Regions from separate parts of the Homo sapiens genome. Here region 2 is linked to region 1. Evidence: fine-mapped expression QTL. Tissue or cell type: whole blood. Region 1 holds a variant in brackets; the other region holds the start of a gene. All regions are shown on one strand. Distances are between the middles of the regions.

Region 1 (8,106 bases):
GTAATTTGACTTAGTTTTTATAGCTTTGCATTTCTTCATACAGAGTCCTTATTTAAACCAGTCTGAATGTCAGGTGAAAGGTACTTTCCAAATCGTCCAAACAGAGAGCCTTTGAAGAACATTCTTCATTTGTGTTCTCAGCTAAGGCTGCTCCTGAGGTTGCCTTTTTAGGAAGAATCCCATAGTCGGGAAGCTCTTAGATAATTCCTAGATGATAGAATCATGATGAGATGAGCATGAAAATGAAGCTGGAAGTTCCAAGCACATAACCTTCAGGAGGTGACATTCTCCGAGCTCCTATAAATTCCCTGGCACCAAACTAGTGAGAGCATCTGACCCCACAGGTGCTTACAGTTAAAACGGGCAGAGGGTGCAGTCAAACATCCTTATGGAGCCAAGTATTTCCCAGCTGCATGACCCACACCTGACCAAATCTGTAGCTCTTATAAATTTCTGGATTATGTATAAAATGTATGAAAATATTTTGGGGATTTGAGTTTTTACACATCAGCACATATAAGCTAAATTCATATGCGCCAGCAACCTTCACCTCCTCCTGTTTATACAAGGGGTGCTTGTCAAACACCTCTTAATGTTTTATAATACAAAACAAAAATATATTTGATGTTTACATCTAAATATGAATATGGGGTTTTTTTGTTTTTTTTTTTTTTTGAGACAGAGTCTCTCTCTGTCACCCAGGATGGAGTGCAATGGTGTGATCTAAGCTCACTGCAACCTCTGCCTCCTGGATTCAAGTGATTCTCCTGCCCCAGCCTCCTGAGTAGCTGGGATTACAGGCATGCACCACCACGCCTGGCTAATTTTTGTATTTTTAGTAGCAACAAGGTTTCACCCTGTTGTCCAGGCTGGTCTCGAACTCCTGACCTTGTGATCTGCCCATCTTGCCCTCCCAAAGTGCTGAGATTACAGGCGTGAGACACCGCGCCCAGCCAGGGCATGATTTTTACTGTAGGCATATCATTTAGTTATGCACAGCAAAAGACTGGTTTTCATTTTATGCAATATTAAAATCAATGTAATGCAATCTTGATTTTCTCTCCTAGCCACCCGAAACAATGAAATGTAATACATTCATAAGACAAGTGAAAGAAGAGCATGGCAGACACACAGGTTTGCGCTAAGTGTTGTCTGTAACAAATATGGCCTACAATACTTATAAAAATGTCAACCCACCTGTTTCAAACTTGGTATCCCGCCTAAATCTTTATTCTTCTAGGCTTGTGGTAATTAATGAGTATAAATCTTTATCGCAACTGTCCACTCTATTGTAATCCCAGCATATCAAGATAACTTAGGTTGGAATGGTCCATTGCATTCAGTATTAAGAAAAGATAGACTTCTATTAATAAAGACACAGACAGGCTTGCCTGAGCTCAGAATCCAGCAATGTGTCACCCCTCACACTGTGACCCCTGTAACTGTAGTTCTCTGTTCTTTAAAGAAATAGACATTCCACTAACAACACATACAAACTGTGACAAGAAGTGACAGGGGCTGTTATGTCAAAGACTTAAGGGTAATTTTTAAAAATCCTCTTAATTCAACTACATATCGGGTACAGTGTACACTGCTCAGGTGACAGGTGCACCAACATCTCAGAAATCACCACTGAAGAACTTATCCATGTAACCTGAAACCACCTGTTCCCCAAAAGGTATTGAAATTTAAAAAGTTACAGTTTTATATGTTTAAAAAAGCCTCTTAATTCATATAGTTATTGTAAGCAGAGAAATTTTCATTTTTACTTTTTGTAACATTTTATTCATTGTTTCAGCTGGCCAAAAAAAATGAGGTATGATGAAATTATAATTAATAAAAAGGGTGAAGGTGCTGTATTATTTTACTAAGTATGTGCATCCACCACTAGGCAAGGTCTGAAGAAATAAGCATAAAGTAATTTATGATTAGCTGCCCTAAGACTATTTCCTTCTCAAATGTTTGTCTTATTCTTAGATGCAACTGTGAAAGTTCCTTTTCTTAAGAAATGCAAGGAAGCAGGACTTCTTAATTACTTACTTGAAGAAATATTAGACAAAGTTCATTCAATTCCAGAAAAACTCATGGATGAGACTACTTCAGAATCAGGTACTGATGAAGAGCAATATTTCGAAGTATAGAGACTTCTCCCAGATCTAGATTTAAAACAAAACAAACCCAAGAAAAAAAAAAAGGCCCATTTTCTTCCTATACTACTTTTTTCTTCTATCAGCTTTTGGAAATGCTTACTATTTATTTCACTTTTTGGTTTTGCCCTATAGAAAATAATCCCATTCAAATAAACATTTTTTATATTGTTGCCTACAATATAAGCTGTCCAGCTTGTCATTCTTTACCTTTACCTCATTCTTTTTTTTTTTTTTAAGACGGAGTTTCGCCCTTGTTGCCCAGGCTAGAGTGCAGTGGTGCGATCTTGCCTCACTGCAGCCTCTGCCTCCCAAGTTCAAGCGATTTTCCTGTCTCAGCCTCCTGAGTAGCTGGGATTTCAGGCACACGCCACTACGCCTGGCTAATTTTCTGTATTTTTAGTAGAGACAAGGTTTCACCATGTTGGCCAGGCTGGTCTTGAACTCCTGACCTCAGGTGATCCGTCCACCTCGGCCTCCCAAAGTGCTTGGATTACAGGCATGAGCCACCATGCCTGGCCCTTTACCTCATTCTTTAATAAAATAATTGGACCAGATCTACTATCCTTCATAAATCAACAGGATGTGGGTAATTTACAAACTCAGTAATTTAGTCAAAAGTAACCTCATGCCCTGAGAGTTGTGGTACATTTTCCAGAGGTGTCTAACAGGTTGGCCACTAAGAGAATGTGCCATTCAGAGATTGATTCGGTCACATATGCTCCCCTGCCACCGCCCTGCATTCCTGTTGCTAAGATCTGAGAACAGTGTTATGTTACAGTTTTGATTTTGGAATCCAATTCTATTCCTTAATAAGCCAAGTGTCCTTTTTTAAATAAGGTTAACTCAAACTTTAAAGTATAGAAGAAGGAATTTTAATGTTTTGACTGATGTTTGGTTTAAAGATGTACTTTGTTAAAGAAGTTTCTTTCTTAAGGGCTCTTTGGGAAGTCAAAGTTCCATTTGTATGTGCAGGTATATAGCTACTTAGCTTTTTGTTTGTTTGTTTTTGAGGCAGAGTCTCGCTCTCTCTCCCAGGCTGAAGTGCAGTGGCATGATCTCAGCTCATTGCAACCTCTGCCTCCAGGGTTTAAGTGATTCTCTTGCCTTAGTCTCCAGAGTAGCTAAGATTACAGACATGTGCCAACACACTCGGCTAATTTTTGTATTTTTAGTAGAGATGGAGTTTCACCATGTTGGCCAGGCTGGTCTTGAACTCCTGATCTCATGTGATCTGCCCGCCTTGGCCTCCCAAAGTGCGGGGATTACAGGTGTGAGTCACTGTGCCCAGCCTTACTTAGCTTTCTTATAACTTATATCCCATGAGTTTAAAACCTTTATTATAAATATAGTTATTTTACAAGGACAAGCTGGACAGCTTATATTGTAGGCAACAATATAAAAAATGTTTATTTGAATGGGATTATTTTCTATAGGGCAAAACCAAAAAGTGAAATAAATAGTAAGCATTTCCAAAAGCTCATTTATTATACTATTTTATTCATTTATTTCCTCTAGACCAAGCACTTCCCAAACAGTGTGCCTGAGAACCACCTGTAGGGCTGGTGAGGACACAGATAGCTGGGCCTATCCCACAGAGATTCTGATTCAGTACAAATACCAAGAATTGGGGGCCAGGCGCGGTGGCTCACGCCTGTAATCCCAGCACTTTGGGAGCCCGAGGTGAGTGGATCATCTG[T/A]GGTCAGCAGTTCGAGACCAGCCTGGCCAACATGGCAAAACCCTGTCTCTACTAAAAATACAAAAATTAGCCGGGCGTGGCGGTGCGCGCCTGCAATCCCAACTACTTGGGAGGCTGAGACATGAGAATCGCTTGAACCCAGGAGGCAGAGGTTGCAGTGAGCCAAGATCGCACCACTGCACTCCAGTCTGGGCAACAGGGTGAGATTCTGTCTCAAAAAAAAAAAAAAAAAAAAAAGAAAAAAGAGAAATGCCAAGAATTACATTTCTGACAGCTTCCCTGTAGTGCTGCTGCTGCTGTTGCCATCTAACATTAAAGTTCCATGGCACATGACTGCTCTCTTTCCTTTCCCCTGTTTTGGATTACATATATAAATGGAGGAGTTTCTGCCTATACAAACTGTTTAATATTGAAAATGTTTCTCTCCCTCCAGACTATGAAGAAATCGGGAGTGCACTTTTTGACTGTAGATTGTTCGAAGACACATTTGTAAATTTTCAAGCAGGTATATGAGTTATATAACATCTGAGCAGCATAGTTTTGAGAAATATTTATCACGATATTGAAACAATATACTGTACAGGTGATAAAAATATTTTAGAAGAATGTTCATTGTTTTCTTAAATGAGAAAAGCCAATTACAAAAACAGTATGACCCCGCCCACCTGCCCACACACACAGGAAAAAAATATCGAGGTACATGTGCACAGACAAAAGCTGCACCTGGTGGAGACAGTAGTTGGTTGTAGGTAGTTGGAATATAGTGATTTTTGTCTGTTCTTTTACTGCTATATTTTCCAGATTTTCTATATACACACAAATACTTTTATAATGAGAAAAACTCATTAAAAAAGTAGAGACAACAAAAAATTGATTCAAAAATTGGAGCATATTTTGGCCTGTGTGTGGCCCAGGCAGGAGCTGGTAAAGCTTCCTGCGGCTTCTCTGCTCTTGGGTGGCGAGGCTATGATAAACCATCCCTCCGCTTGCCTCCCTCTCGCTTGGTGAGATAGGTCAAAATTTTAATTCTCCCACTATTAATCCTCAAATCTAATTTAATTTCTTATCAGGGAGGGTTACGACTGATTTAAAGTTCATCAGAAAAAAAAAAAACAAAAACAAACAAACAAAAAATGAGCAAGTAAGAATAGCCAAGAAATGTTTGCAGTAGAAAATCTCGTTTGGTTTGGAGGAGGGAGATTTAACCTTCCTATTAAATATCAACCATTTATTGAGTGAGTCCTCCTTTCAGCATTAAGATGCCCTCAAGACAGGCTACACCTCCACTTGTTTATGAGTCTGGTCTGACTTCTCTATCAAGGCTGCCACACACAGCTGGGCAGGCCGGGCACAGAGTCAAACAGCATTGGTGGATGGCTCCCCCTGAAGTTGCACAACAGAGTGAGTGCCCTCCACACTCTGCATTTCCACAGATGCATCTGTCTCTCCAGCATATGGTAGGAAGACAATAAGATTTCCCTGTGAAGAAATCATTAGTTCATATCCCTGTCTCAACATACACAACCTTTCTCATTTTGGCTTCTATATTATACATTTCTATTTGAATTTTTTACTACATTTATAACCAGCAGGAAAAATACTTTGAAAAATCTACCAAAAAGAGTGTCTGTCTTAATAGTCTTTTGAGGATGTCTGCTAATATATAGCAGTATCCATATTTTTTTAAAGCAGCCTTAAAAATTTTTTTCTAAAAAGAGTTATTTTGTAGGGGACTTCCATGTGTGTTTTTCTTTCATGTAAGGGAACATGTCACACATCACTACTTGGATGGATTAGGTGGGAGTACATATATTATAGTGTAGTATGGCGGGGGTGCCACTACTTAGAACTGCATGAGATTCAACTTAAAAGGCTTAAGTTGGGTTTCACTACCCTGGTTGATAAAAACTTGCTTAATTTAGCCTTACTCATATTTTAAGTTAACTATACGTATGCAGTTATTCTGAATAAAGTTTGTATATGTGTGTAACTGTTCGATTTTGAGGCTTTTAAAAATTACATTGCCATTGACTACTATTTGTTATTTATAAAGCCTAAGTATCTTCCTCCTAAGCTTTTCTAAGTTTCCACAATTAAAAGCCTTCCTATTTCTAAATGAAACCAAAAGCCTTTATGTAACATTAAAAATTGGACACATTTTTAGGAAGGATTTGTCCTTAACCTTGGTATTCTAGCCACATTCTCCAATTATCATCTCTCAATAAATGGATATAGTATAGCATGAAGGTTATACAGTCACTGTTTTCAAGTTCTCAAAGATATACAAAGGGACTTGTTCTGCTATAAATGTGCACAAAATCTTAAGGGTTTACTGAACAGCTTTGTGTATGATAAATGTTAGAATTCTGTCCTGAATTAGAAGGAGGAAGTGAAGGCATAAAGAAACCAGCTCCTGCCCATAAGGCTCTGGATCCTTTTCACCAGAGGCACGAGGATTGTGTATCTGTACCTGCAAGTGAAAGGGGCTAGAAATGGTACATTATTTCTAATAAAACTACTGAATAAGCTGAAATAATTTTATTTCTTCTTTTCATAGCAATAGAGAAAAAAATTCATGCATCTCAACAAAGGTGGCAGCAGTTGAAGGAAGAGATTGAGCTACTTCAGGACTTAAAACAAACCTTGTGCTCTTTTCAAGAAAATAGAGATCTTATGTCAAGTTCTACATCAATATCATCCCTGTCTTATTAGGGATTACCGTTTCCTAAGCCAAGAGTCATGTCAAATTGCAATCAGGCTCAAAACCAGAGACCAGGCTGTGAAATCCACACATCTTTAGAACTAGTCGTCTCCTCTTGGCCTCAGCAGCTCTTCCCTGTTCTTACTGGTTGACATTTTGATCACTCTTTGCACACTCTTGTGTTTTTTGCTCACTGTCACATTCCCAGCACCTAGTATGCTCAGTAAATGTTTGTGGAATAAGTGCATAAAATGTTCTTAACCTTTGATTCTACTTACAGCCCATGATAGCCTCTTAGATATAATAAATTTGGATTATACTACTTTACTTGTACCAAATTTGCCTGTTTTCGTGTCACAAAGTCTGCTTTTGAAAAGTCTCTTTTCAGCCACAGTTATCACGTGGAGATTCATCATCTTCAAAACAGACACCTAAATTTTAAATTGGACTCTGAATAAGAACATTATCGGGAGTATGCAAGAATGAAAAAAAAAATTGACAGTTACATTTTTCTCAATCTAATATACGATTCTGGTTTTTATGCCCACACTATCACGTCTGACCCCTGAAAACTTAACATTCACAGTTCTCATTTTTTACCATGGTACTCTGATTTTCAATAATGCTGCGTCTCAAAATGGGTTTTAACTGAGTCTCCAAGCATGGTGTCTGACATGTAATAAATAAGTACTGGAAAAATATTTGCAGGAGATGAAAAAGAACAGTCCATTCCAGTTGTAATGGCAGCCCTAGCCTAAGTTCTTATATCTTAGGGACAAAATCTAAACCAGTGGATTTCAAATCCGGCCGCACATCAGAATCATGTGGGGCACTTTAAAAACTACAGAAGTGAAGACCCCATCCAACACCCTCTGAACAGATTTCCGCTAGTCTAGATGATTATTGATTACTGTAGCTTCAGCTTCCTATCCTGATATTAAGTCTTAGCAAAGTTTTTGGTTGTTGTTTTGTTTTGTTTAAGACGGAGTCTCACTTTGTTGCCAGGCTGGAGTGCAGTGGTGTGATCTCGGCTCACTGCAACCTCTGCCTCCTAGGTTCAAGCGATTCTCCTGCCTCAGCCTCCCAAGTAGCTGGGACTACAGGCGCGCACCACCATGCCCAGCTAATTTTTGTATTTTTAGTAGAGATGGGGTTTCACCATGTTGGCCAGGATGGTCTCGATCTCTTGACCTCGTGATCTGCCTGCCTCGGCCTCCCAAAGTGCTGGGATTACAGGCGTGAGCCACCACGCCCAGCCATCTTAGCAAAGTTTATCTGACTAATCATTCTGATGTCATGATCTTTATTTAAAAAAAAAAACCTTTGTCCCCCACTTTACTTTCACGTTTAACCTGTGACTCACACAGCATGTAACTGTGCACCATGGAGCACCATGTGTTTGGTGGCCATGAGGCTGGCTACTGGGCAAACCCGAGTATGGGTTCATAAGGCGGAGCCGAGTATGAACTTCAGCTATGTCACTACTGAAAAACTTGAATCCGATTATTTAATCTGAGAATGCTGCTGCCTACCTTATGGGACAAAATATGGACAAGTAA
Region 2 (8,106 bases), 60 kb after region 1:
ATCAAAGAGGAGAGGATGTAACAACTCAATGGGCCTTAAGAAAGTAGCAGGGAATGGGATCTGAAGCAGAAGTGCAACAGAAGCGCCGGGCGCAGTGGCTCATGCCTGTAATCCCAGCACTTTGGGAGGCCGAGGCAGGTGGATCATCTGATGTCAGGAGTTCGAGACCGGCCTGGCCAACATGGTGAAACCCCATCTCTATTAAAAATACAAAAATTAGCTGGGCATAGTGGTGGGTGCCTGTAATCGCAGCTACTCAGGACCCTGAGGCAGGAGAATCGCTTGAACTCGGGAGACGGAGGTTGCAGTGAGCCAAGATCACACCACTGCACTCCAGCCTGGGCAACAAAAGCAAAATTCTGTCTCTAAATAAATAAATAAATAAATAAATGCAAGAGAAACTGTAGAAAGGAGCAAGTCTTCCTTTTCTTCCTTCCACAAGAGGAGGAGGAAAGGGTGAATGTGAATGAAAGCCAGTTTAAAGGTTAGGAATCCAGATGCTGGAGACATACTCATTCTCTCATTCTCATTCTCTCTCCCCGCTGAGTCTCCATTTTACATGCCCACCGGCAATGTACAACAGTGCTGCTTTCTCCAGTATTTACTGTCTTTTGTATTATACCCATCCTAGTGGATGGGAGGTGGTATCTCATGGTTTTGATTGGCATTTGGAGACCATTCTCTTCTGAGGTCACCTATTTTTCCCCTATGAAGAAAGAGTTAGGCTTTTTGCTAAGAGTAAGAGGGGAGGTAGCAATAAACAGTGGAGTGGAGGCCGGGTGTGGTTGCTCACGCCTGTAATCCCAACATTTTGGGAGGCCAAGGCGGGAGGACTGCTTGAGGCTAGGTGTTCAAGACCAGCCTGGGCAACATAGGGAGACCCTGTCTCTACAAAAAATAAAAAAATTAGTCGAATGTGGTGGTGCGCACCTGTGGTCCCAGCTACTTGGGAGTGGGGAGGATCACTTGAGCCTGGGAGTTTGAGGCTGCAGTGAGCTATGATCACATGGCACACTGTACTCCAGACTGGGCGACATAGTGAGACCCTGTCTCAAAAAGAAAAAAGTGGAGTGGAGCAATTGGGGGTAAAATGGTGAAGTCTGAAGCAGTCACCAGGGAGGATGGGAAAGAGCACTGAGCAGAGAAACCTAGCAGGATGGTAAGACCAAGCCCAGAGAAAGCTGGAGACCGTAAGTCTTTAGAGGTACCCATCTGGTCTCCTCTGTGAGCTTTTCTACCCCAGGAAAGAAGTGTGCTTTTGTGTATGTGTGTGTGTGTGTGTGTGTGTGTGTTTTAAATGTGATCTAACACACAGTTGACTTATATAATTATTTCATTAACTGATCTCCTCTACTAAGTCTATTCTGGCTAAATTCAGACAACACTCATCATACCCCTCTTGTGCATTCTTCAGCACGTACACAACATGTACTTTTTTTTTTTGAGATGGAGTCTCACTGTGTCGCCCAGGCTGGAGTGCAGTGGCACAATCTCGGCTCACTGCAACCTCTGCCTCCCCAGGTCAGGTAATTCTCGTACCTCAGCCTCCTGAGTAGCTGGGACTACAGGCGCACACCACCACGCCCAGCTAATTTTTTGTATTTTTAGTAGAGACGGGGTTTCACCATGTTGGCCAAGCTGGTCTTGAACTCCTGGCCTCGTGTAATCTGTCGCCTCAATCTCCCAAAATGCTGGGATTACAGATGTAAGCCACTGCGCCTGGCCAATATGTAACATTTTTAACTTTTTGTAAAACCAGAGAATATTTTGAAATGTGTCCGAATGCCCTGCCTAGATTCTAGACTCTGTGAGGCCCCAGCCTCCTTTCCTATGCATGACTTACTGTTTAATGTAGTACACACAGAAGGGATATCATCATCATAATAAAGGTCCTCACTTTCCTTCACAGTTTCATCTACCCCACAATGACTCCCAGGAAAAGGAGGGTACTGTTTCAGACTTCCCAGCTCCCGTATATTAGGTGGAGCCAAGTTCTTGCTGCAGCATACGGGCACGCTTTAAAATTTTCAAATCATTTTTTAAAAGCTACAAGCTTGACAGCTTTGGGTTTTTATGGCTACTTGTTTTCTGAAGTTCACAGAACTTTATCATTTGGATCACACACTTAAAAAAATCACTTGCAAAAATCTCTTTAAAGATGAATATGCTTCCTCTTCAAGAGAAACAGACTAGCGGGTAGAAGAAAAAGGACCCGTCTAGAGTATTAATAAATAGACTGATATTCACACAATGGATTAAATGGATTAAAGTCCATCCCACAGATGAACTGTTATATTAATAGAATCCAAATATACAGTTACATCCTCGACCCTGAAAGCAGTTTAAACGGGTGAAATTCACCCAGTGCTCACTTGAAATGAGTACTCTAAAGTTTAAAGCACCTATAAACTGCCCTCAGGATTCAATCATTTTTCCATTCCTTCCGGCATTATATACTTTGATGTTTTAATGTTATTAGCCCACAATACACACCAGTTTCAGAAACTCAGTTTTTGTCCTCTAAGGGCTTTTAGTCCTCCCAAAAAAAGAATAGGGCAAAAGCAAGGAAGATCATGAATCTGGTTTTCTAAAAGCATTATTACAAGACTGCTTTATAAAATTGTAATCCCCAGCTGCAGAGTTCCGCAGATGGCTTGAAAGTGTCTTACATGCAAATAAATAAAAACAAAAGGCCACTTATGCGAGCAGAACACAGCGTGCTCGATAGTCATCTTAAACCGAGCAGGTAGGTACTTTATCAGAGGCAGACAAGGGAAACGTCACTTATTTAGAGTTCACCGCACGCCTGGATAAAAGTCCTCACTAACAAAATCCCTGCCTTTGTGGATTCTGTGTCGGAAAGGGAAACGATAAAGAATACGGTTTGTGACAGCACTACTCTCAGGAGACGAAGGAGAGATGCTAAGATCTTGGAAAGGAGAGAGAATAGGAAGAGTCGGAGGGGAGATCTCCTCTCAGTAAAACGGCACCCACAGCAGTCAGACTTCAGCTACGAGCAAAATCGAGTCCGTGCACCTCAAAAAAGAGAGGGAGGCAGGGAAAACTTTCCCTCGCCTCTCCCCATCCTTCCCTCCTCCTCGCAGGAGAGCACATTAGCTGAGGTGCTGGCGGGGCCGGGCCGGGGACCCCATCCCTCGCCCCGGACGCAGCGCCCGCAGGGACTGCCCGGGAGCCCGAGCGAGGGAGGCGGGAGGTACAGGAGTAACGGGGCACTCCCGGCCCGGCCTGCGGGGAAGGGAAGCAGGGGCAGGGCCGAGGGGGAAGAGGCCTCCGCGAGCTCGACCCCGCGCCCACACGCTACCTGCGAGGTCAGCTGCTGCCGCGCCGTCCCGCGGGACCGCAGGGATCTCCGAAGCTCCAATGGGCGCAGAAGTGCGAGCGAGCGGCGGTGCCCACCGGCAGCGAAGAGGAGGAGCGCCAGGGCGCCGGGCCCGCCGGGTCACGTGGCCCCGGCCGCCTCACGTGACCCGGTGCAGCGCGCGCCCGGGACGCTACCCAGCCGAGCATCCCGCACCGCCCCGGCCCCGGCCCCGGCCGAAACCCTGCTCTTCGGGCCCTACAACCCGACTTCTTTAGAAGCCGATTGGCCGTCTCAGGCCCGCCCCGAGGCCCTGCCACTGGAGTGTCCCCATGAAATCCGGTGGCTGCTGCCGGGACTTAGAGGCTTTTGTGTCTGAGGAACCAGGAACGCGCGAGGCACGGGCTCCTGCTCTGCTCCCCGAGATGGCTTGGCTGTGGGGAGGGTCGGCCTACCACCCCAGAGACCTAGGACGGAAAAGCGACCGAGAAACTTGGCTCCCTGCCCACTCTAGAGCGCGTCTGGCCCCGGGGCACCACCCAGGTGGTGCTGCCTGGGAGGAAAGGCGGCGGAGCTGGGACTAGTTTGTTTTTACTGGAGACGCGCCTCCCTCCCTCCCCGCCCCTCACTTCCTGATTGAAAGTACCTGAGGCAGGCCAGGGACTAGGGAAGGTGGCAGCTGGACAAAGGTATGAAGGAAGGACGAGATGAGGCACAGGTCCTGGTATTGGAAAGAGGCAGAGGTACCTCGGAAGCATGCCATAGAGGTTAGACGGGACCTAAGAGGGCATCTGGTCCAACCGGATTCGTGTTACCAGCGAGTAAACTGAGGCCAGGAGAGGGACTGCTACGAGCTGCTCCAGCCTATCACCTATAAAGACTACAGTCCCTTTGTAAAATACCATACAGCTCTCGGAGAACTCCCAGTTGGCGCTGCAGGATAAAATCCAAACTTGTTGGCATAGCATTCCAGCCACTTGTTCACTTACCTTTCCCATTTGAGCTCCTAGGAATAAACAGAAAAACATTTCATTTTCTAAATATCACCAGATAACTTCACTTTTGGTAACTTGAATTATTAAAAAAGTCCTACCGTCCCTCATCTCTTGCCACTTCCCCAACATTACTGGAGGCTCTGGCTACAAATAATTTGTTTTCCTTGACTACTCAACTTTCTTTGGATTATTTACTTTTTCTCTAAGTTTCTTTACTCCTTTTTGCTTTGTTCATTCTTTTGTCTGTATCTGAAATGTCCTGAATCACCACCTCCCCCACTTAAAGAAAACCAGGGCCAATGATTAAAAAAAAAAAAAAAGGTATTAAGAAACTAATGCAATAAGAGAATTGAGCTTAGTTCTGTATCTATTCTGAGGTCTCGCTCCTGTTGCACTAGTTCCTGAATAAAATGTTTTTACCACTTCAACTACTGTTTGGCTCTGGTTTTCTTCAACAGCCTCCAAAGTACACATCAGTTTCCTACTCATCTTTCAAAATCCAGGTCAAATGCCGCCTACTCTTGTCTTCCCAGCATCCTCTTCCCTGATTTTTTAGCAATTGAAGTTCATCCAGACAGTGTCAGCTGCAACTTCTTCCCTGATTTCCAGAATACTATATATATTCTGATACACCTCACACTGCCCAGAAATAGACTGCGCATTTCCTGTAAAAGGTGAATTGTCTATTGCTGTCTTCTCCCTTAGATTATAAACTCTTTGAAACAGGATTCTTCTGGGTTTAGAACAGCGCCTGGCATGTGATAGACCCTTAATACTCACTGAATGAAGTGGCTTGCCCAAAGTAGTGGCAGTTGAGTGAATTTACTAGAAGAGGCCTGTTTTGCTCAAAGAAACTAAAATCAGTTTCTTTTGGTTGCAACCCGATCAAAAGAACTTGTGTAAACATGTCTGAGAGAAAAACGAGGGCATGGGGTGTGAGCAATCAAATATGTCCTGAGCCCTCACTGCTTATGTGTCAGATGCCATACTTGGAGCATCTTGGAGGATTAAAAGCTGAATGAGACATGGTTGCTGATAAGGAATGTGTAGTCTGGTTCATTATTCCAGTACAGGGTGAAAAGTATTATGATACAAGGTGCTAAGTGAACACAAACCAGGGACCACAAATCAGGGAGTCAGGGAGAAACTTCATGAGAAGGTCAGTTGGACAGGAAGTAGATAAGAAGAAAGAAAAAGACATTCCAGGAGAGAGCAATGTGTTCAAAAGTAGTGACACATGAAACAGTACTATTTGTTTAGGAAAAAACAAACAGGTAGGTGCAGTGGCTCATGCCTGTAATCCCAGGCCAAGGCAGGCAAATCACTTGAGGTCAAGAGTTCAAGACCAGCCTGGCCAACTTTGGAAAACCCTGTCTCTACTAGAAATACAAAAATTAGCCAGCTGTGGTGGCACGTGCCTGTAATCCCAGCTACTTGAGAGGCTGAGGCACAAAAATCACTTGAACCCAGGAGGCAGAGGTTGTAGTGAGCCAAGATCGCATCACTGCATTCCAGCCTGGGTGACAGAGTGAGACTCTGTCTCAAAAAAACAAAAACAAGTAACCCTATATTGATGCCTTGATGACTTCATTCACATCTAGGATAAAGGAAACCAAATTAGGTTAATTTTAATATACTTGAAAGAATGACATATTTACTGGTATTGGTGTTATTTATTGTATTGAATAACTTTCTATCAGGCACATCATAGGCTCTGCATCTAAAATTGGCCTAGGCCAGGCACAGTGGGTCACGCCTATAATCCCAATGCTTTGGGAGGCCAAGGTAGGTGGATTGCTTGAGCCCAGGAGTTCAAGACCAGCCTGGACAACATAGCAAGACGCTGTCCCTATAAATAAATAAGAATAAAACTGGCTTGGACTAACGCGAGGTGATTTTTTACCTTTTTTTCCAGCCTCAAAAGCTTTCTATGATTATTATGTAAAAATACCAAAATTACTTGTTCCAAAGAAGATGATTTTTTTTATTTTTTGAGACAGCGTCTTGCTCTGTTGCTCAAGCTGTACTGCAGTGGCATGATCATAACTCACTGCAGCTTCAACCTCCATGGGCTCAAGTGATCTTCCCACCTCAGCACCTCAGCCTCCTGAGTAGCTAGGACCACAGGTGAGGGCCATCAGGCTGGGCTAATTTATATTTTCTGTGGAGACGGGGTTTGCCATGTTGGCCAGCCTGGTCTCGAACTCCTGAGCTCAAGCAGTTTGCCTACCTCAGTCTCTCAAAGTGCCAAGATTACAGGTGTGAGCCACCATGCCTGGCCCCAAAGAAGATTATTTTAGAGCACTCCAAACCTTTCCTTTAGAGCAAAATAATTCAATTAACAGGTAGTACTTTAAGACAGAAACTGGGCTTAACCTCCAGCATGTGAAAAGGGAGAACCACTCCACTTAATGCTAACACATGATTACGTTGGGAAAAGTACCTGTCAAGAACCTAATAAAATATCATAAGGTTTGTCCGGACATGGTGGCTCACGCCTGTAATCCCAGCACTTTGGGAGGCCAAGGCAGGTAGATCACTTGAGGTCAGGAGTTTGAAACCAGCCTGGCCAACCTGGTGAAACCCTGTCTCTACTAAAAATACAAAAGTTAGCTGGGTGTGGTGGTGGGCACCTGTAATCCCAGCTACTCAGGAGGCTGAGGTGGGAGAATCACTTGAACCCTGGAAGCAGAGATTGCAGTGAGTCGAGATCATGCCACTGCACTCCAGCCTGGGCAACAGAGTAAGAGTCCATCTCAAAAATAAAATAAAAATAAAAAATGAATAAAATTGCTTCTTTGTCCTTTGGCAGGCAAAATAGCTTTTTTATTTTTTTATTTTTATTTTTTGACACAGGGTCTCGCCCTGTCACCCAGGCTGGAGTGCAGTGTCATGATCTCAGCTCACTGCAGTCTCCACGTCCTGGACTTAAGCGACCTTCCCACCTCAGCCGCCCGAGTAGCTAGGACTACAGATGCATACCACCACACCTGGCTACTTCTGTTTATTGTTTGTAGACACAGGATCTCACTATTTTGTCCAGGCTGGTCTTGAACTCCTGAACCCAACGGATCCTCCCACCTCAGCATCCCAAAGTGCTGGGATTACAGGTGTGAGCCACTGTACCCAGCCCAAGAGAGCTTCTTAATTATGGAATTTCTTCACTGTCCATGTCAGTTGATGGTGAAATGTTTATTTTTTATTCATTAGCAGTGGTCCTTGTTCCACCTGCATTTAGCTGTGGTAGCACCATGGCTTATTAGGAGGTCACCAACTTCTGGTGGGAGATACGCAGTCTCTAGTCTTCTGAGACATAGAAGTTCTGACTGCAATTGACTATGAAGCAGGACTGGTCCTCTGAATGTTAACATGCATCTTGAAGACTTCTTAGAGTGACCCTGGGATGATGATGGAGGTAGTAAGAATATTCTCAGATGGGGCTTGACTCACTCATTTGGAATATTAAAGGTGAAGTTACCTGGGACAAACTCAGTGACTTTATGAGGAAACAATCAGAGAAATACATAATAGCGGACAAGAACCTTTCTAGCCTTGGTTTCCTCAAAAAGTTAAATTTAGGGGGAAGGCCAGGCACGGTGGCTCACACCTGTAATCATAACACTTTGGGAGGCCAAGGTAGGCAGATCACTTGAGGTCAGGAGTTCGAAACTAGGCTGGCCAACATGGTGAAACTCCATCTCTACTAAAAATATTTTAAAACGTTAGCCCAGCGTGGTGGCAGGCACCTGTAATCCCAGCTACTTGGGCGGCTCAGTCAGGAGAATTTACTTG

Evidence for each region. PIP is the estimated chance that this variant, and not a neighbour inherited with it, causes the effect.
Region 2: it holds the start of RCBTB1, and the variant in region 1 is fine-mapped to the expression of RCBTB1 in whole blood (INTERVAL, PIP above 0.99). The same link has a PIP of 0.9 or more in monocytes.

Annotation. Positions count from the first base shown.
Region 1 is chr13:49,522,108-49,530,213 of GRCh38, forward strand. SETDB2-PHF11 (SETDB2-PHF11 readthrough) reads left to right here. Exons shown (of 21, transcript NR_135324.2): 17 at 1,068-1,134; 18 at 1,978-2,109; 19 at 3,666-3,830; 20 at 4,280-4,351; 21 at 6,404-6,869. It overlaps PHF11 (PHD finger protein 11), which reads left to right. Exons shown (of 10, transcript NM_001040443.3): 7 at 1,068-1,134; 8 at 1,978-2,109; 9 at 4,280-4,351; 10 at 6,404-6,869. The coding sequence ends at 6,558. Among named protein-coding and RNA genes, the nearest start is that of PHF11, 30 kb to the left of the region's middle. The variant T/A (reference allele first, on the strand shown) is at 3,847.
Region 2 is chr13:49,582,122-49,590,227 of GRCh38, forward strand. It overlaps RCBTB1 (RCC1 and BTB domain containing protein 1), which reads right to left and starts at 3,437. Exons shown (of 13, transcript NM_018191.4): 1 at 3,323-3,437. RefSeq lists a silencer at 2,961-3,670.